7 linked regions of the Homo sapiens genome follow. The protein of the gene in region 3 purifies or fractionates together with the protein of the main gene of each other region. This does not show direct contact. Each region holds a gene or a part of one and is shown on either strand. Other genes may lie near its edges.

Evidence for each region.
Region 1: the proteins of LCN9 (region 3) and ITGA8 purify together in Homo sapiens (affinity purification with mass spectrometry; one large-scale study listed by BioGRID and IntAct). This does not show direct contact.
Region 2: the proteins of LCN9 (region 3) and TCTN1 purify together in Homo sapiens (affinity purification with mass spectrometry; one large-scale study listed by BioGRID and IntAct). This does not show direct contact.
Region 4: the proteins of LCN9 (region 3) and UBE3D purify together in Homo sapiens (affinity purification with mass spectrometry; one large-scale study listed by BioGRID and IntAct). This does not show direct contact.
Region 5: the proteins of LCN9 (region 3) and DNAAF2 purify together in Homo sapiens (affinity purification with mass spectrometry; one large-scale study listed by BioGRID and IntAct). This does not show direct contact.
Region 6: the proteins of LCN9 (region 3) and COL14A1 purify together in Homo sapiens (affinity purification with mass spectrometry; one large-scale study listed by BioGRID and IntAct). This does not show direct contact.
Region 7: the proteins of LCN9 (region 3) and NXPH4 purify together in Homo sapiens (affinity purification with mass spectrometry; one large-scale study listed by BioGRID and IntAct). This does not show direct contact.

The regions. Positions count from the first base shown.
Region 1 is NC_000010.11:15,513,923-15,517,422, reverse strand, and holds the end of ITGA8 (integrin alpha-8 isoform 1 preproprotein), read left to right. Parts: intron 1-178; coding exon 179-265; 3' UTR 266-3,469; downstream 3,470-3,500. UniProt on the Homo sapiens protein: Integrin alpha-8/beta-1 functions in the genesis of kidney and probably of other organs by regulating the recruitment of mesenchymal cells into epithelial structures.
Region 2 is NC_000012.12:110,624,129-110,627,628, reverse strand, and holds part of TCTN1 (tectonic-1 isoform 1 precursor), read right to left. Parts: intron 1,268-3,500; coding exon 1,137-1,267; intron 1-1,136. UniProt on the Homo sapiens protein: Component of the tectonic-like complex, a complex localized at the transition zone of primary cilia and acting as a barrier that prevents diffusion of transmembrane proteins between the cilia and plasma membranes.
Region 3 is NC_000009.12:135,661,851-135,666,108, forward strand, and holds the start of LCN9 (epididymal-specific lipocalin-9 precursor), read left to right. Parts: upstream 1-1,458; 5' UTR 1,459-1,471; coding exon 1,472-1,567; intron 1,568-2,311; coding exon 2,312-2,448; intron 2,449-2,871; coding exon 2,872-2,945; intron 2,946-3,394; coding exon 3,395-3,505; intron 3,506-3,800; exon of another isoform or gene 3,801-3,837; coding exon 3,838-3,893; 3' UTR 3,894-3,902; intron 3,903-4,010; 3' UTR 4,011-4,258.
Region 4 is NC_000006.12:83,063,042-83,067,178, forward strand, and holds the start of UBE3D (E3 ubiquitin-protein ligase E3D), read right to left. Parts: upstream 2,801-4,137; 5' UTR 2,678-2,800; coding exon 2,601-2,677; intron 205-2,600; exon of another isoform or gene 112-204; intron 1-111. UniProt on the Homo sapiens protein: E3 ubiquitin-protein ligase which accepts ubiquitin from specific E2 ubiquitin-conjugating enzymes, and transfers it to substrates, generally promoting their degradation by the proteasome.
Region 5 is NC_000014.9:49,628,745-49,632,244, forward strand, and holds part of DNAAF2 (protein kintoun), read right to left. Parts: intron 1-3,500. UniProt on the Homo sapiens protein: Required for cytoplasmic pre-assembly of axonemal dyneins, thereby playing a central role in motility in cilia and flagella.
Region 6 is NC_000008.11:120,275,102-120,278,601, reverse strand, and holds part of COL14A1 (collagen alpha-1(XIV) chain isoform 1 precursor), read right to left. Parts: intron 1,118-3,500; coding exon of another isoform or gene 1,103-1,117; exon of another isoform or gene 670-1,102; intron 492-669; coding exon 368-491; intron 168-367; coding exon 24-167; intron 1-23. UniProt on the Homo sapiens protein: Plays an adhesive role by integrating collagen bundles. It is probably associated with the surface of interstitial collagen fibrils via COL1.
Region 7 is NC_000012.12:57,223,294-57,226,793, reverse strand, and holds the end of NXPH4 (neurexophilin-4 precursor), read right to left. Parts: intron 1,917-3,500; coding exon 1,047-1,916; coding exon of another isoform or gene 848-1,046; 3' UTR 345-847; downstream 1-344. UniProt on the Homo sapiens protein: May be signaling molecules that resemble neuropeptides and that act by binding to alpha-neurexins and possibly other receptors.

The sequences.
Region 1 (3,500 bases), on a different chromosome or scaffold from region 3:
GAACCGGGAGGCGGAGGTTGCAGTGAGCCAAGATCACGCCACTGTACTCCAGCCTGGGGAATAGAGAGCGAGACTCAGTTTAAAAAAAAAAAAATACATAAAGTGAAAATTCTTTGAATGAGGGGTTTCACAGGTTCCCAGAATGACGTGATTTTATAGCCCATCTTTCCCTTTATAGTGTGGATTCTTTGACAGAGCCAGACCTCCTCAGGAGGACATGACCGACAGGGAACAGCTGACAAATGACAAGACCCCTGAGGCATGACAAGAAAAAAAAAGAAGACCAAAGACCTCAAACACTGGTCCTGTTCAAAGAAAAAGAAAGAACATGAGGGTTAAAAATCAAAGCTTTCTGATACCTGACAGTGACCCAGGAAATGGAGGGGACCCTGGAAACATCACCTCATCTACACCGCACTTTGGAGAAATTGTCCTGGGTGCCCAGTGAGCCCTGTTGGAAAAGGAAACACCAAAGCTGGAGAAGCCATCAGCAATTGTGGAAGATTTTCTTTTGCTTTAATCGTTCTGTACTTGGCAGACACTTTGAAATGCGTATGGGAACGTAAGTTGCAGTCCAGATCAATCCAGCATAAGTTGCAGAGATGAAATGTCTGAATCACTATAGAATTTACAAGGTGAACTAAGGTGAAATGACTGATTTACTATAGAACTTAGAACTAAGACCACACCATCCAACACTACTGTATCCAATGGAACATTTGACACCTCCCTATGGAAAAGAAACATTTCTAAGGACATTATGGCTCAGGGAGACAAGCAATATGTTGTTGGTACTGTGAAAGTACTTTTGAAAGGACAAAAATAATCTTGTGAGTGAGGGTGAGAGTTTATTTATTTATTTTCCATGTCTCTAGGTTGAGAATCTGTCATCTAGAGAATTTGGAAATTAAGATTTGGTTAGCTAGTTTTCAAAATCACTCACTCAGTTTCCTCCTAAGAACCACTGTGTGCAGATAACTCATTTAGCAGAGCTTCTTCAGAATTTAGACAGTGCTAAGGAAAGGAAGATTGGCATTAGGAATCAGTTCTATTTAATACCTTGCTGCCTTCCATCTGAAATTCCTTTCACTCACATTATCCAGGGACTCACATCTGCTTAATTTAGCTTTGCAAGATGTTGCATTTATATTTCCTTGTATATCTTTCCATTGACTTAGTTAATACATGAATTTCGAGGTACTCTCTACCTTTGGAGTGTTTAAAAGTCATGGTAAAATGTCTAGAGTTCATTAATTAAAAAGCAATTTAACATTATGGGTAAACATTATTTTTAATATCTATAAGAAGCAACACTTCTTATAGATATTTAGCTTGGGATTAAATACCCGTTTTTCCTGCTATGCCTTGTACTTGTATACACAGAGAAAACATGTTGAATATAACTTAGACAAAAACATAAAATTATACAGGCATGAGCCAAACTGGGAAAACTGATTCCTAAAGATTTTTATTTAAAATTGCTTATTCCAACTTTATTACTTATTTTTACTGCTAATCTTTATAATATGTAACTTTGGAGAATAATCTTTTATTTAAGCTATTTTCCCATCATCTTGAATTTAACCATCACAAATTTTTTATGTTTAAAACTCTTGTAAATAATTCATAATCTTGTAATATTATCATTTTTGAAGTAAAATTGACCAGCCAAATTTATAGGTAGTCTGCACAATTTTGTATCCTTTTTTAATAATGAAAAATTACTATGAAGAAATACTGAACAAATTTTTATGTGCAATATTTTATAGACCTATGTATCTGAAGCATGTTTACACTGGCGTTTTTTTTTTTAATTAATTTCCTAAATGTTAAGTATGATAGAACAAGCTGACCCAAATCCTTAAGTTTACAAAGCTGTTGGAAAACTTTGTGTCCTGATTTCAACAATCACGCTTTGTTTGAAAGATGAGCCAAGCTCACAGACACTAAATTTTATGTCATGCCATAAGCTGGAGAGGAGCCATTTGGCTACAGCTGCGGAACTTCATTGAGGAGCAAATGAAAGGCACATGGACGAGCACGCTGGTGCAGTTCATGTTCTTCCTGCCTGTGAATTGAATACTGTCCTGGTAGCAGTTTCGGGTCGGTCAGGAGCTCAAGGCTGGTTTGTGTGGCTGACTACGGATGAGCACTGAAGTTGCCTCAAAGAATTAAGGGGTGTCCACACCAGCCTCTGGGGGTCTTTGGTGTTAGTCTTCCAGGTAGAGCTGGTTTTACAAGTAGGTGGCCATCTACAGGATGTGATGTGAGCGATGCCAGACAGCTCTCTCTGACCCCAGGTAATGCCCTGAATCTGGTGATCCTGGCTGATCTGTGACCAATAGAGATTAGCTCCTTGGGATTTGGGGTCCTAAAAGGTCCCTGAAAAAATGCACCCCTTGTCTTTAAGCCAACATTGGTGAAGGAACTGAGAACTCTTAGGGTTACATAAAAAAAGACCCCTGTTGAGATAGTTTATGCAGATACCTGGAAGGAACTAGAGATGCCAGGAGGAAGACTGAGACCCAGAATGAAGCAAGGCATGAGGGCTCCAAAGTGAACTGCACCATCCCAGAGTCTCAGCCAAGATGGCCCTTTCCTAGAGGGACGGGCACCTTCCACCTGCCCACAGGCACTGCTACCTATGGGAATTGCAGAAGGCCGTTGTACACACGCGCATGCACGCAGTGGCCCTCTGCCCTTTAGAATATGGAAGCAAAGTCTGGGTGCAGTGACTCACACTTGTAATCCCAACACTTTGGGAGGCCGAGACGGGCAGATCACCTGAGTTCAGGAGTTCAAGACCAGCCTGGCCAACGTGGCAAAACCCCATCTCTACTAAAAATACAAAAATTAGCTGGGCGTGGTGGCAGTCTCCTGTAATCCCAGCTACCTAGGAGGCTGAGGCAGAGAGAGAATCGCTTGAACCCAGGAGGCGGAGGTTGCAGTGAGCTGAGATCGCGCGACTGCACTCCAGCCTGGGCGACAGAGGGAAACTCTGTCTCAACAAAAAAATAAATAAAATAAAAAATAAAAAAAGAATATGGAAGCAAATGGAGAAAGGGAGGAAACTGAGGTCAGGCAAACCTTCCAGCAATCCGTTCTGCCCAGAGAACATACTGACGACAGAGAACACACTGAGCGTTATCTGCTTCTAGTTAGAGCATTGCCGATTGCCTTCATAATTCATAATGTGCTGTGCTCCTCTGAGGGTCTATCTGTATTTCTCTTCAAAGAATTCCCTTTTTAAATTCTTGCAGCTGGGTTTTAAGACACAATAATGGGGCAAATTAAGTTTTATAAACTTGGAGATTTTTATACAGTAAATAAAAAAATAATATGTACTAGTCACCCCTGAAACTGCATTCTTAGAACTCGACTCTTGTTTTATTTAAATACGTGCGTAGATATCTGTGAAGATTTTCATGTACCTATTTACCTTGTCACTAATAAAATTAAAACTGAAAGACTTGATGGCATACTTTCGGTTTATTTCACAT
Region 2 (3,500 bases), on a different chromosome or scaffold from region 3:
AAAAACACATGTATATATAGAAACCTAGATTCCTATGTATGTCTGCATATTATAAACACTTTTAAGATAAGTATACGGTTTCGAAAGACAACTACACAATCATAATTACTTTTAAAGAAAATGTGCATGCCCACAGGTCTATAAAGTTACTTCCTATTACCTGTGAAATGGTCTCTAAAGATATACACTATACATATAGCAAAACAGAATAATTGCTTTAAATCTAACTGAGGGCTGGACAAGGCAGCTCACACCTGTAATCTCGGCATTTTGAGAGGCCGAGGCAGGAGGATCATTTAAGGTCAGGAGTTTGAGACCAGCCTCGCCAACATGGTGAAACCCTGTCTCTACTAAAAATAAAAAATTAGCTGGGTGTGGTGGCAGGTACCTGTAATCTCAGCTACTCGGGAGGCTGAGGCAGGAGAATCACTTGAACCCGGGAGGCAGAGGTTGCAGTGAGCTGAGAACGTGCCACTGCTTTCCAACCTGGGCAACAGAGTGAGACTCTGCCTCAAAAAAAAAAAAAAAAAGAAAGAAAGAAAAAATAGTAATAATAGGGCTGGGCACAGTGGCTCACACCTGTAATCCCAGCACGTTGGGAGGCCAAGGCAGGTGGATCACCTGAGGTCGGGAGTTCAAGACCAGCCTGACCAACATGGAGAAACCCCGTCTCTACTAAAAATACAAAACTGGCCAGGCATGGTGGCCCATGCCTGTAATCCCAGCTACTTGGGAGGCTGAGGCAGGAGACTCACTTGAACCCAAGAGGCAGAGGATTTGTGATGAGCCGAGATTGAGCCGTTGCACTCCAGCCTGGGCAACAAGAGCGAAACTCCGTCTCAAAAAAAAAAAAAAAAAAAAAAAACCACGCACACACAAAAATTATCCAGGCATGGTGGCAGGCACCTGTAATCCCAGCTACTCAGTAGGCTGAGGCAGGAGAATCACTTGAATCTGGGAGGTGGAGGTTTCAGTGAGCCGAGATTGCGCCACTGCACGCCAGCCTGGGTGACAGAGCAAGACTCTGTCTCAAAAAAACCATAATCATAATTATAAAATAAATCTGACACATTTTTCCATAACTTTGAGAAAAATTTTCCAGAGCTTCACAAAATATATCAATGTCAAATACTTACAGTTTGTAATATGAATGCAGAAAATAGATGGATTAATCTGGTCAACAAGTTCAAATACTCTTTGAGGTGGGTTTGCTGTAAAATTCAATGAATAGATGACTGCTTTTTGACTACAAAACTGGCTGTCGCCCCTGAAAATTAAAAAAATAATAATACAAAGTTACAAGACATAAGCACACAATCTTAGCAAAATTATTTTAAAACTGTCAGATGCTTGTACTGTACTATGTTAACAGTTACGTGGAGGATATTTATGAAAGCATGACGTCCCAGCTACTTGGGAGGCTGAGGCGGGAGAATGGCATGAACCCAGGAGGCAGAGCTGGCAGTGAGCCAAGATCGCGCCACTGCACTCTAGCCTGGGCAACAGAGCAAGACTCTGTCTCACAAAAAAAAAAAGAAAGAAAGAAAGAAAAAAGAAAGCATATTAGAATTGAATCCGGCTGGGCACGGTGGCTCACACCTGTAATCCCAGCACTTTGGGAGGCCGAGGTAGGCGGATCACAAGGTCAGGAGATGGGGACCAGCCTGGCCAAGATGGTAAAACCCCATCTCCACTAAAAATACAAAAATTAGCTGGGCGTGGTGGTGGGTGCCTGTAATCCCAGCTACTAGGGAGGCTGAGGCACGAACATCGCTTGAACCCAAGAGGCAGAGGTTGCAGTGACCCGAGATCGCGCCACTGCACTCAAGCCTGGTGACAGAGTGAGACTCCATCTCAAAAAAAAAAAAAAAATTGAATCCTTTTTTTTGAGATGTAGCCTCACTCTCCCAGGCTGGAGTGCAGTGGCACGATCTCGGGTCACTGCAACCTCTGCCTCTTGGGTTCAGGTGATTCTCCTGCCTCAGCCTCCCGAGTAGCTGGGACTACAGGTGTGCACTGCCATGCCTGGCTAATTTTTGTATTTTTATTAGAGACAGGGTTTCACCATGTTGGCCAGGCTGGTCTCAAACTCCTTACCTCAGATGATCCACCTGCCTCAGCCTCCCAAAGTGCTGGGCATGAGTCACCACAGCTGGCTGAATCCATTTTTATTTAGTTTATTCTGTGTTGAAATATTTTGCATTTGGGCCAGTCACAGTAGCATGCACCTGTATTACCAACTACTCAGGAGGTTAAGATGCAAGGCTCACTTGAGGTTAGGAGTTCGAGGCCAGTCTGGCAACATAGTGAGATCCTCATCTCTTTTTAAAAAAGAAAAAGCTTGGCATTTAAAACTTTTTCCTCTAACAGAAAAAAACAAAATTGAGACAAGTAGAATAACCTTTAAGGAAATCTTGTCAAGAACGTAGATCAGGGTATAATTTTTATGTCAGTGAACTTTACAAACTCTGATAGCATCAATTAGATAAAATTTTGCAGACCTTCAGATTGTTTAAAAGTACCCAGAATAGATCCAAATTCCTTGTCTTTAGAATAAAGCTGTCTTCAAAGGACTGTGAGAGTAAGAAAATGTGGAGTCATCTGGAAGGTTTAATGCTTAGAAGTTATGGTACAGGGCCAGGCACAGTGGCTCATGCCTCTAATCCCAGCACTTTGGGAGGCCGAGGCGGGTGGATCACCTGAGATCAGTCGTCTGGAAGGTTTAGTGCTTACAAGTTATGGTACAGGACCAGGCACAGTGGATCATGCCTGTAATCCCAGCACTTTGGGAGGCCGAGGTGAGCGGATCACCTCAGGTCAGGCATTCAAGACCAGCCTGGCCAACATGGCGAAACCCTGTCTCTACTAAAAATACAAAAATAAATTAGCCAGGCGTGGTGGCATGTGCCTGTAGTTCCAGCTGCTGGGGAGACTGAGGCAGGAGTATTGCTTGAACCTGGGAGGTTGCAGTGAGCCAAGATCGTGCCACTGCACTCCAGCCTGGGCGACAGAGTGAGACTCTCTCTCCCAAAAAAAAAAAAAAAAGAAGTTATGAGTTAAGTCTTCAACCAATCCCAGATTTGACAAATCCCAATCAATTTGCTATAGATACAGATACAGGCCAAGCACCATGGCTCATGCCTGTAATCCCAGCATTTTGGGAGGCTGAGGAGGATCACTTGAGGCCAGGAGTTCAAGACCAGCCTGGGCAACACAGACCCCTATCTCTACAAAAAACAAAGAAAAAATTAGTCCGGCATGCTGGCAGATGCCTGTAGTACTAACTACTTGGGAGGCTGAGGTAGGAGGACTGCTTGAGCCCAGGAGCAAGGTTACAGTGAGCTATGATCGTGTCACTGCACTCCAGCCTGGGTGACAGAGCAAGACCTATCTCAAAAAAACATAGAGGCTGGGCACAGTGGCTCACGCCTACAATGCCAGTACTTTGGGAGGCCATGGCAGGAGGATCACTTGAAGCCAGGATTTCAAGACCAGCCTGG
Region 3 (4,258 bases):
CTCAAAAAAAAAAAAAAAAAGGGCTATCGTCCACAGATGCAGGTCATCTCCAGCCCTAGGTTATCGGTTAATGACCGAACCACATCATGGCTTAGCAGAGGGTCTCCCTCGGGGCTGAACGTCCTCGCAGTCCAGGCCGTCCTTGCAGGCACCGGCATCATGTTACATTGTGGAATGTATTGCTGTTGCACATTGTTCCAAAACATCCCTCCAGCTCATACTATTTCAACAGGCGCTTTCTCTAGGCCCCCAAAACAGAGAGTACTACTGGGAACAAATCAACATCTTTCACTCCAACACTGCGTTTGGTGCCCCGTAACAATGACCTCCTATCAGCAGGAAGTAGCCAGAAAGATTATAATGCCCCATCCCCCCATGATTCTCATAAGAAATAAATATACAAGCATGATAGCAATCATGCATAATTTGACAGTGGGGATTGTGGCAGGCCAGGTCTCACTAACGGCTGAATAGGCCGGCCTCCACGACAACTGTTTCAGCACTGACCGGGTGGTGAAGTCAAATATTAAAAGCTGAGAGGGCCAGCGCCCTTCAACAGAGGCTGGAATGTAACAAAAGCCCACCAAGAGTTTTGCCCAGGCCTCTCCTGGGCCTTGAAGCATGACAAGATAACAAAGGAATTCTTAACAGGACCCGTTTAGGATTAAACAAGTTTTACTGGGGTCTAAAGGAACGCCCCAAACCTCCATGATTTAGCAGGAGAAAAGATAAGGGGAATCACCCCAGCACCTGGACCCCTCCAGATTAAGTAAATTTACTGAGGCTCCAGAGGAAGTTCTTCAGGACTCAGGCCTTAATTATAGATTAGAAGAAGTTCATCACTGTGTCTTTAGCTGAATGCACACTTACACGTAGACCTACAGCTTCGAAGATATATAAGCTCTGGAAAACTGCAATTTTGAGCTGGTCTAGTGCTATTTTCCCGGGCTTCTGCCTGTACCCGGTGACAGAAGCAAACTCTCTTATTTCCCAGCTCGTCTGCATCTCGTTACTGGGCTGAGAGAATAAGGAGCGAATAAGCGCCCGGCCGTCGGTTGAGTCTGGGGACGCTGTGACTCACCATTGGCTCCGGCCCCAGACGCTGTGCTGGGGAAGGAGCGGGAGGGGATGGGAGGGGAACAGGGACACCCTGTACTCCACAGACACAGCCACCATGGGTCCTCTTGCAGGCTGAGAGAGAGGCTGTCCCCTGCATTTGGGACAAGGTGCCTGCCTCCAGTGAGGGGACAGCAGGTTCCTTTGCCCATGGATCCAGGAAGCTCCCACAAGGGAGTGGGGTGATCTTCCCCAAGGTAGAGAGGGCAGCAGCCTCGGGGCCTTTGGCTGCATGCCCAGTGGGCACAGGATGTGTGTGGACGGGCCACAGAGTGGGCCGCCCTGCAGGGCTGGAAGCCGCAGGGCAGCAGGGTATAAAGGGGGTGGGCCGAGGGCTGAGGCGTCCACGGCAAAGATGGCTCTGCTTCTGCTGAGCCTGGGGCTGAGCCTCATCGCAGCCCAGGAGTTCGATCCCCACACCGTTATGCAGAGGAACTACAACGTGGCCAGGGTGTGTCTGCGTTGGGGTCTGTGGGGAAGGGGCCAGGCTTCAAGGCACCTGTCTTCCCCCAGCCTGGGGTCTCTGACCTGTGACCAGGGCAACTGGTCCAAGGGGAGCCCACCTCTCCTCCCCAAGCTGTGACAGCAGCCTGGGAGAGCAGGGGTTACTCCGGGAGGGTCGGGTGGGAGAGGCCTGGGAGAGTGACTGGGGCCCTGAGAGGTTAGAGGGGGCCCTGGGAGGGCAGAGGGGAAAGCTGGAGAGTGGAGTGGCGGCCAGCAGGGAGATGGGGGCCCTAAGAGGACAGAGGGGTTCCTAGAAGTATAGGGGAGACCTAGGGAAAAGAGGGGGACTCAGTGGGAAAGGGTGGAGCGGGGGACCTTGAGAGGACAGAGGGGGACCTGGAGGGGCAGAGGAGAGACCTGTGGGGCAGAGGGGGCCCTGGAAGGGCAGAGGGCATTCTGTGAGCAGAGGGGGGACCTTGGGATCAAAGGGGGGATCTGGGGACATAGGGGAGACCTGGGGGGCAGCGGGGGCCCTGGAAGGGCGGAGGGCATTCTGTGAGCAGAGGGGCGACCTTGGGGGTAAAGGGGGGATCTGGTGACGAGGGGAGACCTGGGGGCACTGGAAGGGCGGAGGGGTTCTGGTTGGGAGCCAGATGCTAAGGGGCCGGGCCCTGGGAGGGAAGACTGTGGGCGCTAAGCATCCCCAGGGCTGTCCCGCGGCCCCCCACCCACTGGAGCTCTTTGTCTTCAGGTTTCAGGGGTCTGGTATTCTATTTTCATGGCCTCAGATGACCTGAATCGGATTAAAGAAAATGGAGACCTGAGGGTCTTCGTCCGGAATATTGAACACTTGAAGAACGGCAGCCTAATATTTGATTTCGAATACATGTGCGTGTTGCCCATCTCAGCTGGCATCAGGAAGACCCATGCCCCTGCCACCCCAACGCATACTCTCACTCTTGCACACACACGCTCGCACACTCACTGACTTGCACTCTGGTGAGAGCCTGAGCCTGTGCGTGTGACCCTTGGGGGCAGGGTGAGGTGGGAGCAGGGACTTGGTCTGCCTGGCACTGTGCTCTTCCCTGAAACATAGAGATGAAATCGCCCCCTTCCAAGGCTGGGGTGAGGTTCGAGGAGATGAGGGTGTCCGGTGGGCTGCAGCAGGGCCCAGCCCAAGAACTTGGGGCTGTGGAATGAGGCCTGGGCATTGGGAGGGTGAGCCTGTGCCCTGGAGGAGGGGTGCTCTCTGCCATCGCACGTCCAGGGGGCTGGAGCTCCACTCCCGGCATCTTCCTGGCTGGCTTCCAGGGTGCAGGGGGAGTGTGTGGCTGTGGTCGTGGTCTGCGAGAAGACAGAGAAGAATGGGGAATACTCCATCAACTGTAAGTGGAAGCCAGGCTCCTCCTGGTCTCACAGTCGGGGGTCTCCTTTCTCCAGGGCCTGGGCCATATTCTGGTGAGCACTGACTCTGGGGATTTTAGTTAAGCCCCTGACAGCTTGACCCTGAACTGGAGGGACCCATCCTGGCACCTACCCAGGGGGGCTCCTGGCCCAGGGGAAGCAGGGAGGCAGGTGTGTCATGCTGAGCTCTGGGGGGTGAGCCCACTGAGGGGCCACCAGGGTCTGCAAGCCAATGACAAGGAGGGAGGGGGCTGTGCCGCTGCTGCCCGCCCCCTGTGCAGGGGTCTCCGCTGGGTGAGCACCGTGGGCTCCTCCCCTCCCGCCTCAAAAGGCCACTTGACCCCCCATCCTCACTTGCGGCCACACAGCACGTGTCACAGGACCCTGAGGGTGGCGGGGCCAGGCCACGCTGAGCCATGTCTCCACGCAGATGAGGGCCAGAACACAGTGGCCGTCTCGGAGACTGACTACAGGCTGTTCATCACCTTCCACCTCCAGAACTTCAGGAACGGGACCGAGACCCACACGCTGGCGCTCTATGGTACCTCCGCTGTCCCCCTCTGACCCCCTCGGGGACCCCACCTCCTCTGAAGTCCGGCCCAACCCTGGGCGGAGGAGGGTCTCGCAGTGGCCCTGGGGTTTGGAGAGGTGGTTCCCGTTGGCTATTCCTTCCCACAGACACACCGTTAGGGTGCTGGGTGCTTCAATCTGTCACCTCCCATCTCACTTGGCACAAAGCCCCTCTCTGGTCAGGGCGTGACCCCCTGCCCAGCCTCAGCACTTCCTGAGCACCCCCAGCAAGGCCCAGCTTCACACAGAACCAACTCTGTTCCCAGCACGGGTCCCATAGCTGGAACCCTCCTTCCTGAGCAGATTTGAAGAAACCTGCGAAAAGTACGGACTTGGCTCACAAAATATCATCGACTTGACCAACAAAGGTCAGCCCCACTGCTCCCGGACCAAGCGGGAGCCGGGACAGGGTGGGGATGGGAGGTGTGCCTGCGGGGTCCCTGTCCCTGCGCTGAGAGCCCCCTCTGTCCTTCCAGATCCCTGCTACTCCAAGCATTACAGGAGCCCGCCCAGGCCTCCCATGCGTGAGCTGCGACTCGGGACGGGCAGGGGGCTGGATGGGGAGAGCTTGGGGCCAACGTCAGAGGCTGCGGGGTCCCACCCCAGGAGGTGCCCATCCCTCCCCCTGGTCTGGGAACCGAACACAAGGTGCTTTGGTGAAAGATGCTGTGAAAAGCATCCTGGAGTCGGGGCAGTGATGGGGCCTTCCAGGGTGGTAAGGTCT
Region 4 (4,137 bases), on a different chromosome or scaffold from region 3:
AACTAACCCTTAAGGAATAAAAAAACGATAGAGTGGACTTCATTAAAATTAAAATTTCTGTTCATCAAAGGACACTATCAAAAAAACGAGGCAGGGCATGGTGGCTCATACCTGTAATCCCAGCACTTTGGGAGTCCAAAGTGGGTGGATCGCTTGAGTCCAGGAGTTCAAGACCAGCATGGGCAATATGGTGAAACCCTATCTCTACAAAAAAATACAAAAATTAGCTGGGCATGGTGGCATGCAACTTGTATCCCAGCTACTCCAGAGGCTGAGGTGGGAGGATTGCTTGAGCCCAGGAGGTTGAGGCTGCAGTGAGCCATGATCACACCACTGCACTGTAGCCTGGGCAGTAGAGCAAGACGCTGTCTAAAAAAAAAAAAAAAAAAAAAAAAAGAAAAGAAAATGAAAAGTTAAGTCACAGATAAGAATAGTCATATATTCACAAGGCATTTATGTGAGAAAGCTCTTGTTTTGAGACAGTATAAAGAACTCTCAATTAAACAAGACAAATAATCTGATTATGGGCAAAAAAAATTAGAAGATACTTTTAAAAAGAACATATATGAATTGCTAAAAAGCAAGTGAAAAGGCACTCAACATTATTAGTCATCGGTAAAATGAAAATTAAAACCACAAGATACTATTTTACACACACTAGAATGGTTCAAACTAAAAGGACTGATAATACTAAATGTAAGTCAAAATGTAAAGTAGTTGAAACTCATTTTTTTTCTGGTTGAACGTGCAAACTGGTACAATCACTTTGGAGAACTGTTTGGCAATTTCTCACAAAGTAACATGCACATCTATCCTATGACCCAGAAATTTCACTCTTAGGTACTTACCTAAAAAGAAATGAAAATGTATGTCCAAAAAAAGATTTATACAACAGTGTTATGACAGCTGTATTCATAATAAGCAAACTCCAGAAACAAGAAAAACATCCAGCAATAGGAGAACAGATAAATGAATTGTGGTATATTCATACAATGGAAAACTTAGCAAGAAAAAGGAATGGACTACTGATATATGCAGCCACATAGATGGAACGTGAATCTGAAAAATATTATGGAAGGAATGCAGCCAGAAACAAAAAAGTATATATTGTATGAATCCATTTATAAGTAGTTCAAGAAATGGCAAAACTAAGTCCAGCAAAGTTAGGTTTCTTTTTTTTTCTTTTTATTTTTTATTTTTTGAGACGGAGTCTCTTTCTGTTGCCAGGCTGAACTGCAGTGGCGCGATCTCAGCTCACTGCAACCTCCGCCTCCCGGGTTCACTCCATTCTCCTGCCTCAGCCTCCTGAGTAGCTGGGACTGACTAAAGGTGCGCGCCACCACACCCAGCTAATTTTTGTATTTTTAGTAGAGACAGGGTTTCACCATGTTGGCCAGGATGGTCTTGATCTCTTGACCTCGTGATCCGCCCGCCTCAGCCTCCCAATGTGCTGGGATTACAGGCATGAGCCACCCGGGTACCTTGCCTAAACAAAGGAGAGTAGTCCAAGGGAACTGTGAAAGGCCCCTGCATGAGAGGAAGGGAGGGTTTGTTGTGTGTGTGTGGTTTTTGTTTTATTTTGGTAGGGTTTGGGTTCCTAATTACTCTACAAGGTGCACCAGAATTGGAGATATTTGTCCAAATTCATAAATTTTGAAAGAGAAAAAGAAATACATTCAGAGTACTATTATTCCCATTTCAAGATTGAAGAAATTCAGATTAAATTATTCTAATTTCGTGAGGAAGCTAGCATTTGAACTCAGTTCTCACGCCATATTCCAAATTGCCACACCAGATATCTGGCAGATTTAGGGAAGAGGAAAAAATTAAGCATCAATCTACCTGTGGCACCGTGTAATACCATTCTCAGGATTTTAACTTCTAACTTACTCTCTTTGAAACAGCGATCACAAAGGAATAGACAAGGGGACCACAAATCATTAAAACTGCTGTCAAACAAAATAGAGAACATTTTTCCTAAAAGTTATTTGTGTAGCGAATAACAAGTTTGACGTTCTCACTGGAAGGAAGAATATGAATAAATGAACGAGCTCCAGTAAGAAGTCTACAACCTGTCTTAGTGGTTCACTAAACTCACGTTTATTGAATGATTGTGTGGTTTCTCTGCAAAGAGCAGTTTTGGACGAAAAGACCCGAGGTTATTTACAAAACAAGAAGCTCACATAGGAACTGATCCAGTAAGGAGGATCCCGAAGAGAGACAGACAAATCATTTTTTGCATTGTTTTGTTGGAAACGCCGGGCACTGCCAACAGTGTTTTACATCACTGTTCCTCAAATTTTAATGTGCATTTGATTCCTGGAAATCTTGTTAAAATATAAGTTTTGATTCCATAAGTCTGGTGTGGAGCTGAGACCCTGAATTTCTAAAAAGCTCCCCAAAGATACCCACACTGTCAGTAGGGGTGGGAGTGGCGGAGCCGACTACAGGGGAAAGCTTCACTTTGAGTGATCGAGAGGCTCTACGCAACTGGAAAGAAGAAACTCAAAATCCCTCGTACAGAGAGAGACTCACCAGCCCCCGACCCCCGGGCAGCAGTAAAGCGAGCTGGGCACTGCGCCTAGAATCCCAGTTCTTACCCCAGGATCAGAAGCGCGCTCTGCAGCTGTCCCCGCACCTCCAGAAACACGCGCGTCTCCGCCGCAGAAGCCGCCATGGCAGGCTTCCAGTCCCAGACCGGACCAAGCTGGAGGTTCCGAGGGGCCCGGGTCAACAGGACCAGGAGAGGTTCCACGTGCGGACCAACCAGCGGCAGCCCCGCTGCGGCGCAGGCGCCTGTGCCAGATCGCAGGGCTGGCGCCGCCTACCAGCTCACAGCGCCACCTGCCGGCCGGAGAGTGCACCACCGAGAAGGCGCGTGACCCCGGAGGCCGGGGCGGGGCGCGCATTTTCAAAACCAGGCTTTGGCCCAGAGTGCTGAGAAAGGTGGGCGGCGAGAGGCTAGCTATCGCCCCACTCTGCTTCTTATGAGCGTGACTTGGCGCGTTAGCATCCCTGGAAATGACCATAAAAATCAGACCCAGGGTTCACACCTTTGGCTAGCTCGAAGGGAGGGAGATGATGGAGGCAAGTGTTACAGGTGGGCTTTGTCCCCAGGAGATGCAAGAACAGAATTCCCGGCCCCAAACCCACTTTATCTTGGTCTCTTTATGAACAAGGGTCGTTTGTTAGCCTCTATCTAAAGCGACAAAATTTTCAAGAATTGACTTGCCATTGCTTCTCAACTTAGACAGGATAGCTCCAAAATTGAAACAGGTGCAAAAATATAAGGAAGTTCTTTGTTACCTAATGCAGAAGAGTGTGGCTGAAGTCTATCAGGACTAACCATTTTTTAGGGGGTAAAAAAGGAAGATGAGAATGATTACGTATGTACAGCTCCACTATTCACTTTCACAAAAGTAAAAACTAAGAGAAGTTGGAGAAGTTTACTACCAGAAGATAGTTTTGAAAAGTTTGACACAGTAAAGAACCTGGTATAATGTAAATACTTATAATGAAGAACTATTAAAATATAAGACCGGGTAGAATTACAATAGGGCTTCTTAAAAACAAGGAGCTGCTTTTATTTATTTATTTTTTTTCGGAGTCTCGCTCTGTCGCCAAGGCTGGAGTGCAGTGGCGCGATCTCGGCTCACTGCAACCTCTGCCTCCTGGGTTCAAGCGATTCTCCTGCTTCAGCCTCCCGAGTAGCTGGGATTACAGGCGCACGCGCCACCATGCCCGGCTAATTTTTCTGTTTTTGGTAGATCCGCCCACCTTGGCCTCCCAAAGTGCTGAGATTACAGGTGTGAGCCACCATGCCCAGCCTAAACCATAAATAAATTCTAAATAAATAAATCCTGTCATATATTTTAAGATAATAGCTTGACAATTTTTCTAAAATCAGTATTTGGGGTGATTAAAGTTTATTATGTTGATGCACAAATTATTATATCTATCACAATAATTTGAAGTTATAGATGGAAGCAACAACTCACTTAAAAAAATAAAGTTTACTATTATTTGGTCTCAAATAATTCATCTATTTGAAGGATGATGATTTCAACTCTTCATATCTTCCACCTTTAGTACCCGAGGCTATTGAATGCTTAAATATTGACACATTATATTGAAATA
Region 5 (3,500 bases), on a different chromosome or scaffold from region 3:
ACAGCTGGCCTCTTTTAGTATTTCAGAAGAATAACATCATCTCTAGGGCTATAAATGGGATCCCAGATACAAAATATAATTCAGCTTTAAAACATTTCCTAATGAGGTGGCTAAGAAATATACATGAAAAGATCTATTCAAATTTTGTGTGACCTTTTAGTTCTTGGGCAGGTAAGAGCCAATTACAGTATTTTATTTCAAATAAGTGGTGTGTTTTTTTGTTTGATTTTGTTTTTGAGACAGAGTCTTGCTCTGTCTCCCAGGCTGGAGTGCAGTGGCATAATCACGGCTCGCTGCAGCCTTGACCTCCCAGGCTCAAGTGATCCTCCCGCCTCAGCCTCTACAGTAGCTGGGACCACAGAACATGCCACCACTCTCGGCTAAGTTTTGCATTTTTTTGTAGAGACAGGGTTTTGCCCTGTTGCACAGGCTGGCCTCAAACTTCTGCACTCAAGTGATCCACCTGCTTTGGCCTCCCAAAGTGCTGGGATTACAGGCGTGAGCCACCACCACACCCAGCCCCCGCCCCCCTTTTTTTCTTTTTTTTGCCTTGAGACAGGGTCTCACTTTGTTGCCCAGGCTGGAATGCAGTCGCACACTCATAGCCCCCTGCAGCCTTGACCTCCCTGGCTCAAGCAATCCTCCACCTGTGCCCCCAAGTGCCTGGGTACCTGGGACTACAGGTGCATGCCATAATGCCCAGCTAATTTTTACATTTTTGGGGCCTGGTGTGGCAGCTAACGCCTGTAATTCCAGCACTTTGGGAGGCCAAGGTGGGTGGATCACTTCAGGTCAGGAATTCGAGACCAGCCTGGCCAACATAGTGAAACCCTGTCTCTACTAAAACTGCAATCACGTGAACCCGTGAGGCGGAGATTGCAGTGAGTCCAGCCTGGGCGACAGAGTGAGACTCTGTCTCAAAAAAAAAAATTTGACATTTTTTGTAGATACAGGTCTCACTTTGTTGTCCAGGCTGGTCTCCAACTCCTGGATTCAAGCTGTCCTCCTACCTTGGCCTACCAAAGTGCTGGGATTACGGGCGTGAGCCACTGCACCCAGCCAAGTGTATTATATTTTTAAGCACTGGGATACTCCAGCGTAACATTAGCAAACTGTATAGTTATTAAAAGAATGAAGTAGAGAGCATATATTCAGGGCATTTTGAATCTATGCTCCAGAGAAAAAGTAAATTATGAAAAAAATTAGGCTGGGCACAGTGGCTCATGCTTATAATTCCAGCACTTTAGGAGGCCAAGGCAGGTGGATTGTTTGAGCCCAGAAGTTCGAGACCAGCCTAGGCAACATGGCAAAACTCATCTCTACAAAAAATACAAAAATTAGCCGGGAGTGGTAGCATGCACCTGTGGTCCTAGCTACTCCAGAGGCTAAGGTGGGATGATCGCTTGAGTCTGGGAGGTTGAGGCTGCAGTGAGCCATGATCGCACCACTGCACTCCAGCCTGGGTGAGACAGAGCGAGACTCTGTCTCCCAAATAAATAAATAAATAAATAAATAATGAGGTAGATTTCAAGATGCTGACATGAAAAGATTTCTAAACTATTACTAGAAAATGCAAAAATCACCTTTTACCTGAATCCCAAACACAAAGCAGTTTGTTCATGTCAAGTGAATACAGGTGTATAGTTAGGGTGTGGGGAGAATAACCATATTAACCATATTTTAAATTAATTTATAAAAGCAGTTCATTGTTGCCCCAAATAAAAATGTTTTCCTCTGTAGTTTTATATAAGCAAATTTTGTAATTACAAAATAAACACAGCTCATTATTTGGTCCAAATAGGTGGAAAATATCAGAAAGAAACAAGTTTCAAGTTTCTTGAACTTGGGAACATATATTCAGGGCAACTTGAATATGTGTTTCCCAGGTTGCAGTCCTCTATTTTGGCCCAAATAAACTCTCTCTCCACACACACACACACACACACACACACACACATAAACTCTCTACACACACACACACACACACAAACTCTCTACACACACACACACACTTTTTTTTTTTTTGAGAAAGAGTCTCACTCTGTCACCAGGCTGGAGTACAACTGCGTGATCTCAGCTCACTGCAACCTCCACCTCCCGGGTTCAAGCAATTCTCCTGCCTCAGCCTCCCAAGTAGCTGGGACTGCAGGCGTGCACCACCACGCCCAGCTAATTTTTGTATTTTTAGTAGAGACAGGGTTTCACCTTGTTGGCCAGGATGGTCTCAATCTCCTGACCTCGTGATCTGCCTGCTTCAGTCTCCCAAAGTTCCGGGGCTACAGGTGTGAGCCACCACGCCTGGCTACGTATTTTTCTTCCATTAAACAGTATTTAAAATCGTGAAAACCTACCAAACAAAAGTGAACCTTGGGAATAGAAAAATTTTACATTTAGAGTAACTGGCTTTGCTATTATTTGAAGATCCAGAATAACACAGTGTTACAGAAACATCCCCATCGAAAGCATTTCTAAGGTTCATGCCTCTGGGAAAAGACATCATCTTTGACTCCTTGCAAATAATACACCAAATATTTTAATTTTTAGTTATCCGAAGGAATATATAGTGGACATGGTTATGATTAAAATACAGAAGATTTGCAGCCGGGCGCGGTGGCTCATGCCTGTAATCCCAGCACTTTGGGAGGCCGAGGCGGGTGGATCACGAGGTCAGGAGATCAAGACCATCCTGGCTAACACGGTGAAACCCCATCTCTATTAAAAATACAAAAAATTAGCCTGGCGTGGTGGCAGGTGCCTGTAGGCCCAGCTACTCGGGAGGCTGAGGCAGGAGAATGGCGTGAACCCGGGAGGTGGAGCTTGCAGTGAGTGAGCCGCCCCACTGCACTCCAGTCTGGGCGACGGTGCAAGACTCCATCTCAAAAAACAACCAGAAGATTTGCATAAACTTGCCTTCTCAGTCTAATGACTGATTAAATGACTAATGAACTGAAAAAGTTACTGACCTCAGAGGCTCTGAAGATTTAGGAAAATTGTCAGTAAACACTGAAAACTTCAATACATATATTTAGTATTTATTTGTAAAGTTCTGACCTTGAAAGCCACATAACAGTCTCTTTATGATTATTTTCATGTAATGCATATAATATTATCATTATATATGTTCCACTACTCATGATTTTTTTCCAAAAATTTAACACTGAGAGCCTGGTCCAGTACAAAGTAAAGCAAAAGAGTTACATGCTGTTGTTCCATCAGCTTTAGAAAAATGTGATGATTAGTGAAGTAATTACAAATCTATTTCAGGCTTCAAAGATATAAAATACAGTTGCCCTAATCCCATTTTCGTCGTTTATTTTCTAAAATGTTAGCATACTTGAAAATCGGATTAAAATGTATTATTGAATATTTTCTTAATTGCTTGTCTACAAAGTTTTCTTCCCACATTGTGGGTTATTTTCATATTTACTAAAACTGTTACAGGAAAACAACTGCCCTTTCCTAAATGTCCCACTTCTGATGACAAAAACAGATACTCAGTT
Region 6 (3,500 bases), on a different chromosome or scaffold from region 3:
CCACTATTGTTTATATATCTTACCATCTAATTGCATCTCCCTGGAGATTTTGTTCACATCATCTTGTGATCTTCCATCAGTTATAACCACGATAACCTTTGGGATGCCCCTTCTTGTACCTGACTCTGCAGTGAACAAGGTATCTCGAACATACTTAATTGCTTTTCCTGAAACAAAGAAAGGCAACAGTTTGATTTCACTCCCTCCCATTTTTGTTTTTCTGGAGAAGAAAGGGTGGGAACAAAGTTCTTAAATTAATGAAAAAAAAAATCTTTAAAAAATTACTATGCCTTAAAATAAAAGGTCATTTCAGTAGTTACAAATAATGAATTACTTTGAGCCTTAGCTGGGCTTCTTTTGGTCATACCTGTTTTTGTATTTCCTCCTTTGTATGAAATGTGTTTAATTGCATCAAGAAGAGTCTCTTTGGTTTTGTAAGCATTTAGTTTAAATTCTGTTCTGGGATCATCAGTGAACTGAACCATTGCAACCTGGAGAGAGAAGGTGTATTCATTTTCACACATATGTAGACTTCCACTGGGTCAGAGAGCAACAGCACAGTGTCACCTGTAGTTTTAATTTCTTCATTATCTCATTACAAAATCTGCTTGGATTAAAATTTCTTTCATACAAGTTACATACCAAATTTGAAGACAAATTAAATACATCTTTTCTTTTTTAAAAATTTTATTTTAGATTCAGAGGGTACATTGTGTAGGTTTGTTACATGGGTAAACGGCATGTCACTGAGAGGTGGTGTACAAATGATTCTGTCCCCCAGGTAGTGAGCATAGTTCCCAATAGGCAGTTTTTCAACCTTCAGCCTCCTTCTATTCTCCCCCTACTAGTAGCCCCTAGTGTCTATTGTTCCCGTCTTTACGTCCGTGTGTACTCGATGTTTAGCTCCCACTTCTAAGTGAGAGCATGCAGTATTTGGTTTCATGTTTCTGTGTTAATTTGCACAAGATAATGGCTTCCAGAGGCACCCGTGTTGCTGCAAAGAACATGATTTTGTTCTTTTTTATGGCTGCGTAGTATTTCTTGCTGTATGTTCACCACATTTTCTTTACGCAGTCCACCATTGATGGGCATTCCATGTTTGTTACTGTGAATAGTGCTGCAATGAACATAGGAGTGCATGTGTCTCTCAGTACTTTCAGAAAGTAGTTTTTTAAAAATCTTTCAAGCTTGTAGGATTTTTGCCACCTCATTTGACAGTTTAAAAATGGCAGCCTAAGCTTGGTAACTTGACAAATGTCCGAAAATCAGAGTTAGACTCTTTACAAAGATTTCCTTATGAAGCAAACCTATGAAGTAATTACTACTATTCTACTCACTTTACACTTGAGGAAACTGAGCTGCAAAAGACAAGTTACTTGCACATCACAAGAGTGGTCACTGGCAGAGTCAACAGTTGAAGTTAGGTCTATTCTAGGTCAAAATGTATGTTCTTAACCACTACTATACAAAGCTTTCTGGCTTCAGTTCTTACAACTGGCTTTTATTCCTGTGGAACTTTTGGATCATTTTTAATTGTTTTTTATTTGTTTTTCAGAATTATGATTTAATAAGTAAAGATAGCATCTTTCGAGAGCTTTGTTTAAATGGGCCTTAAGCTGCTGCCAGTTTATCAGTCTACTGGACATGTCACCATTTTTATAAAGTCTCCTGCAATTCAAAGGGAACTTGCTTCTTTCTGACATGCCTCAGCATGTTACCTATTCTCCTCTTTTTTAATAACCTAATTTTATTTTATTTTTTTTTATTATTATACTTTAAGTTCTAGGGTACCTGTGCACAATGTGAAGGTTTGTTACATATGTATACATGTGCCATGTTGGTGTGCTGCACCCATTAACTCGTCATTTACATTAGGTATATCTCCTAATGCTATCCCTCCCCCTTACCCCCACCATGCAGCCATAAAAAAGGATGAGTTCATGTCCTTTGAAGGGACATGGATGAAACTGGAAACCAGCATTCTGAGCAAACTATCACAAGGACAGAAAACCAGACACTGCATGTTCTCACTCATAGGTGGGAATTGAACAATGAGAACACTTGGACACAGGGTGGGGAACCTATTTTTATTTACAATACTTTTGGAGTACAAGGGTATTTGGTTACATGGTTGAATTGTATAGTGGCAAGGTTTGAGATTTTAGTGCACCCATCACCCAAGTAGTGTACATTCTATCTAGTATGTAGTTTTTTTATCCTTCATCCACCTTCCACCCTCCCCACTCTGAGTCTCCAAGTCCATTATACCACCCTGTGTTCCTTTGTGTAGCTACAGCTTAGCTCTCGCTTAAAAGTGAGAACATACGGTATTTGATTTTCCATTCCTGAATTACTTCACTTAGAATAATGGCCTCCATTCAAGCTGCTGCAAAGTACATTACTTTGTTCTTTTTTATGGCTGAGTAGTATTCCATGGTGTGTGTTTGTGTAAAATATATATATAATATATTTTTTTACATATATATATAACATTGTCTTTACTCATTGGATGACAGGCACTGAAGTTGGTTCTATATCTTTGCATTTGTGAATTGTGCTAAAATAAACATATGTTTACTGGTGTCTTTTGACATAATGACTTCTTTTCCTTTGGGTAGATAGCCAGTACTGGGATTGCTGGAACCAAAGGTAAATCTACTTTTAGTTCTTTAAGAAATCTCCACACTGTTTTCCATAGAGGTTATACTAAATTACATGCCCACCAGCAGTGTATAAATATTTCCTTTTCACCACATCCACACCGACATCTATTGTTTTTTGACTTATAATAATGGCCATTCTTACAGGGGCAAGGAGGTATCTCATTGTGGTTTTAATCTGCATTTCCATGATGATTAGTGATGTTGAGCATTTTTCCATATGTTTGTGGGCCATTTGTGTATCTTCTTTTGAGAAATGTTTATTCATGCCATTTTCCCATTTTTTGATGAGATATTTGTTTTTTTCTTGCTGATTTGTGTGTGTTTCTTGTAGATTCTGGATATTAGTTCTTTGTCAGATGCATAGTTTGCAAATATTTTCTCCCATTCTTGTGTTTTCTGTTTACTCTGATGATTAGCTGTTCAGAAGGTTTTTAGTTTAATTAGGTACCATTTATTTATTTTTGTTTTTGTTGAATTTGCTTTTGGAGTCTTAGTCATAAATTCCTTGCCAGGTCAATGTCCAGAAGAGTTTTTCGCAGGTTATCTCCTAGAATTTTTATCATTTCAGGTCTTAGATTTAAGGCTTTGATCCATCTTGAGTTGATTTTTGTATAAGGTGAGAGGTAGGGATCCAGTTTCATTCTACATGTGGCTATCCAGTTTTCCCAGTGCCATTTATTAAATAGGGTGTCATTTCCCCAATTTATGTTTTTGAATGTTTTGTCCAAGATCAGTTGGTTGTATGTATTTGACTTTATTTCTGGGTTCTCTCTTCTGTTCCATTAGTTTATGTGCTTATTTTTATATCAGTATCATGCTGTTTTAGTAACTATGGTC
Region 7 (3,500 bases), on a different chromosome or scaffold from region 3:
CGCTCTGCCTACACTGTCCCTGTCCATCCCATTCAAGGTCTTACACCTCCTTCCCCAAATCGTCCGCTGGTGATCCCCACTCAGGTCTCATTTCCATCCCACTTGCTGCAGCTTCCCTTCGCCCACCTCAGGGAGGAGAATCCCAACCTCAGGCGGGGCTCCTACCCCGAGGGTAACCCTCAGCTCTCTTTGATCTGGTCTTTGGTGACTTCCAAGGTGCTAGCTCTGTCAGTCTTTGTCTTGGTTTCCCCAAGAGCCGCTGAGGGAGAAGGCCTTGGCCAGGTCTCTACCACATAGAAGCCCCACGCCACCTCCCCATTCCCTACAAAGGTCTCACACAGGCGTGTATTGGATTTCACTTTATTTTGTTCCCTTTCCCGTCTGTTTTGGCGTAGAAAAAATATCACCGAGAGGAAGCAGCAGGAGAGGGCAGGTGGAGCTCGACTGCCTGGACTGGAGGGGGGCGGGCAGGGGCAGGGGCCGGGGGCAGGGCCAGGGCCTCAGCCCAGGGGTTCTGCTTCCGGTACCCTAATAGGGTTTGGAGGAAAAGGGGACAGGCATATGGCAGGCAGAATGGTGGGAGGACAGGCCGAGGTTTTTAGGCCTTTACAGTCTTAGGCGGGGTAGGGTGAAGCAGGACAAGCGCTGGGGGATGGGAAAGTCAGGGTGGGGTGAGGGTGCCAGGCCAGGAGTTATTAAAGCTGCGGGGAAAGGGAGTGCGCAGCCTAGCGCCAAGGGTGAAAAGGGGACCCACTGTGGACCCAGGGGACATTGGGACCGCCTCCAAGCCCCGCCTATTCTGGGGCTGCACTCTTATCCCTTTCACTTTGGGGTGTACTGGAGGGGGCTACCCCAGCCTTGCGGGCACTCCGCATAAGGAAAAGGGCACCCACGCTAGCTGAGGGTCCCGAGAAGCCATTCCCCTCCGCCCCCAGAGTGGAAGGAGTGGGCGACATGGCCACAGGAGCGGCAGAACACTGGGAAGGGGGTCCCACCTAGTGAGGCTGGGATTTGGCGGGAGGCTCAGGACTGGCTGGGGAGGGGCGCTATCCGAAGTAGGGGTGCTCACTCTGGAAGTTATAGTCTGGGCACACCTTCTGCACCAGTTTGTAGTCAAAGCTGAGGAAAGAGACGAAGATACAGATGACTTTGAAGGGCTTGGCACAGAGCCAGGCGGCCTGGCTCTGCGTGTGCTCGGTGAAGCACACCTGCGACGGGTCGTACAGGCACGGTCGGTGCTTGCGCGCGCGGTTTGTCTTCTCATACTCCACGTGGCAATTGAAAGCGCGTGACTCTTTGGCCCCAGGCACTCCCAACGCGCCCCCAAGCGGCCCCGCCAGTGCGCCCCCGAGGGAGCCCCCAAGCCCGGGCCCCGCCGCTGCTGCTGCCATCCCCAGCGGGGGCCCCAGCCCAGGAAGCACCCCCTCCAGGGCGAGCGTAGACTGCAGAGGGTGGGGGACAGGCCCGGGCAGCCAGACTCCTCCGAACTCGACACGCTTGGAGGGCGGCACGATGCTGACACTGAGGTTGCCCAGGCTGGACGAGTTGTGGCGGAAATACACACTGAAGGTACCGTTCACATGGTCCACGATCTTGCCGGTCACCAGCAGCGAAAACTTGAGGGTATGCACCCGAAAGTAGAAGTCCCCCCAGCCGAAGATCTTTTTGGCGCGCGCCGCCTTGATGGACGGCTTCCTCTTGGTGCGCTGCGCGGGCAACGCCCCGGCTGCCCCTGCCCGGGCCAGCGCCCCCGTGTGGTTGGTCGGCCAGGCCCAGCTCCAGGCGCGGCCCACGCCTAGGCCGTCCGAAGACCTTGGCTCTGGGAGCTGCTGGCCGGGGGCACCCGCTCCGGCCGCGGCGGGGCGCAGCCCCAGGTACTGCGGCCTTCCGGACTCTGGTATCTGGGCACTGACGGCCTGTGCACGAAGAAAGAGGAGAGAGAGACGCTGGGGTTGTCCCCCGCCATCCTGCCAGAGCCCTATCGACGCCAGTCCCTTTCCACAGCCGCTAGGAGACCAAATGGAATCACGCAGTCCCGCAGCGGGCAGGGAGCGTGCCTTGGAGGAGAACTGCAGCCCTTTCAAGCTATGTAGTCTTGGCCCAGTCACTTCATGGATCTGGGCCTCAGTTTGTACATCTGTGAAATGACGTCAAGAATCCTGATGTGGCCCACAGAGCTCCAATGAGGGCCAAAAACCCAAAGCCAGTGTGAAGGTGAGTAGGGAGTGGAGCTCTGGATCCTGGCTCATCTTTCCTGGCCCGGCACCTGGTTGGTTCCAGTAATGAGCCAGGGAGGGACTGGACTCTGAGCAAACTGAGCCAGGGAGGCTGTGACCACATTAACATCCAGCATCAAGAAAGAGGCTCCCGCCCGGCACACGCGGTGACTCACGCCTGTAATCCCAGCACTTTGGGGGGCTGAGGTGGGCAGATTGCCTGAGGTCAGGAGTTCAGTTCGAGACCAGCCTGGCCAACATGGAGAAACCTAATCTCTACTAAAATTAGGCGGGCGTTCTGGGGTGCGCCTGTAGTCCCAGCTATTGGGGAGGCTGAGGTGGAAGAATCACTTGAACCTGGTAGGTGGAGGTTGCAGTAAGCCTAGATCGCACCATTGCACTCCAGCCTGGGCGACAGAGCGAGACTCCCTCTCAGAAAAAAAAGAAAAGAAAAGAAAAAAGGAAAGGAAAAGAAAAAGAAAAAGAAAGAGGCTCCAGGACCTCAGAGACCAGAGCCCCCACCTGGGCCTCAGCCCCAACTGGCCTGCAAGGAGTGAGTGCTGGGAACCAGTTGAGCAGAGGAGGAAAGCCTGGGTATCCCTCCCAGTCGCCAGTGCTCCACTCTGGTGGAGGCCGCCTGGCCGTTCTTTTCCTGGGCTCCAAGGGGGCTAAGGAGCCCCCTCCTGCTCCCACCCGTTCTATGTGTCTCAGGTGGCCACCGATCTTGGAGACAGCATGGGCTCGAGGACAAGATGGATCGAGAGGCAGGAGCGGCCGGGCCAGGCCCGGGCCATCAATTATCTGGGGTAGGGGTGAGTGGGGGTGGCCAGGAGTGAAGGAGACAGGAAGCAAGAGGAAGAAATATGGAGATGCCGCTCCAGCGAGGGGAGCAGGCAAGAGAGGAGCTGCATGTCAGAGTGTGTCAGTCAGCCTGAGCTAGCCACCACCGCCGCGTGCTGTGGCCCTGACTGTGCACAGGTCCCATGGGGGGAGGCAGTACCATGTGTGTCAGCCTGGGGTTCTGGTGTCTCTGTTAGCCCCAAATGGTTGTGTGTGTGTGGCCGGTACATGTGTGTGTGGCTGTGGTGGCTGTGTGGGTGTGTATCTGGATGCCCATGGTTATGAGTCTGAGGAGCCTGTGTGTGTGTGGCTGCTTGTCGTGGCTGCATGTCTGTTGTGTAAATCGGTGACTGTGTGTATGTGCCTGGATTGGCTGGGTGTGTGTGTCAATTTGTGGAGTGGTGTCTGTGTGACTGGTGTGGTTACGTGTCTGGGTTGGCTATA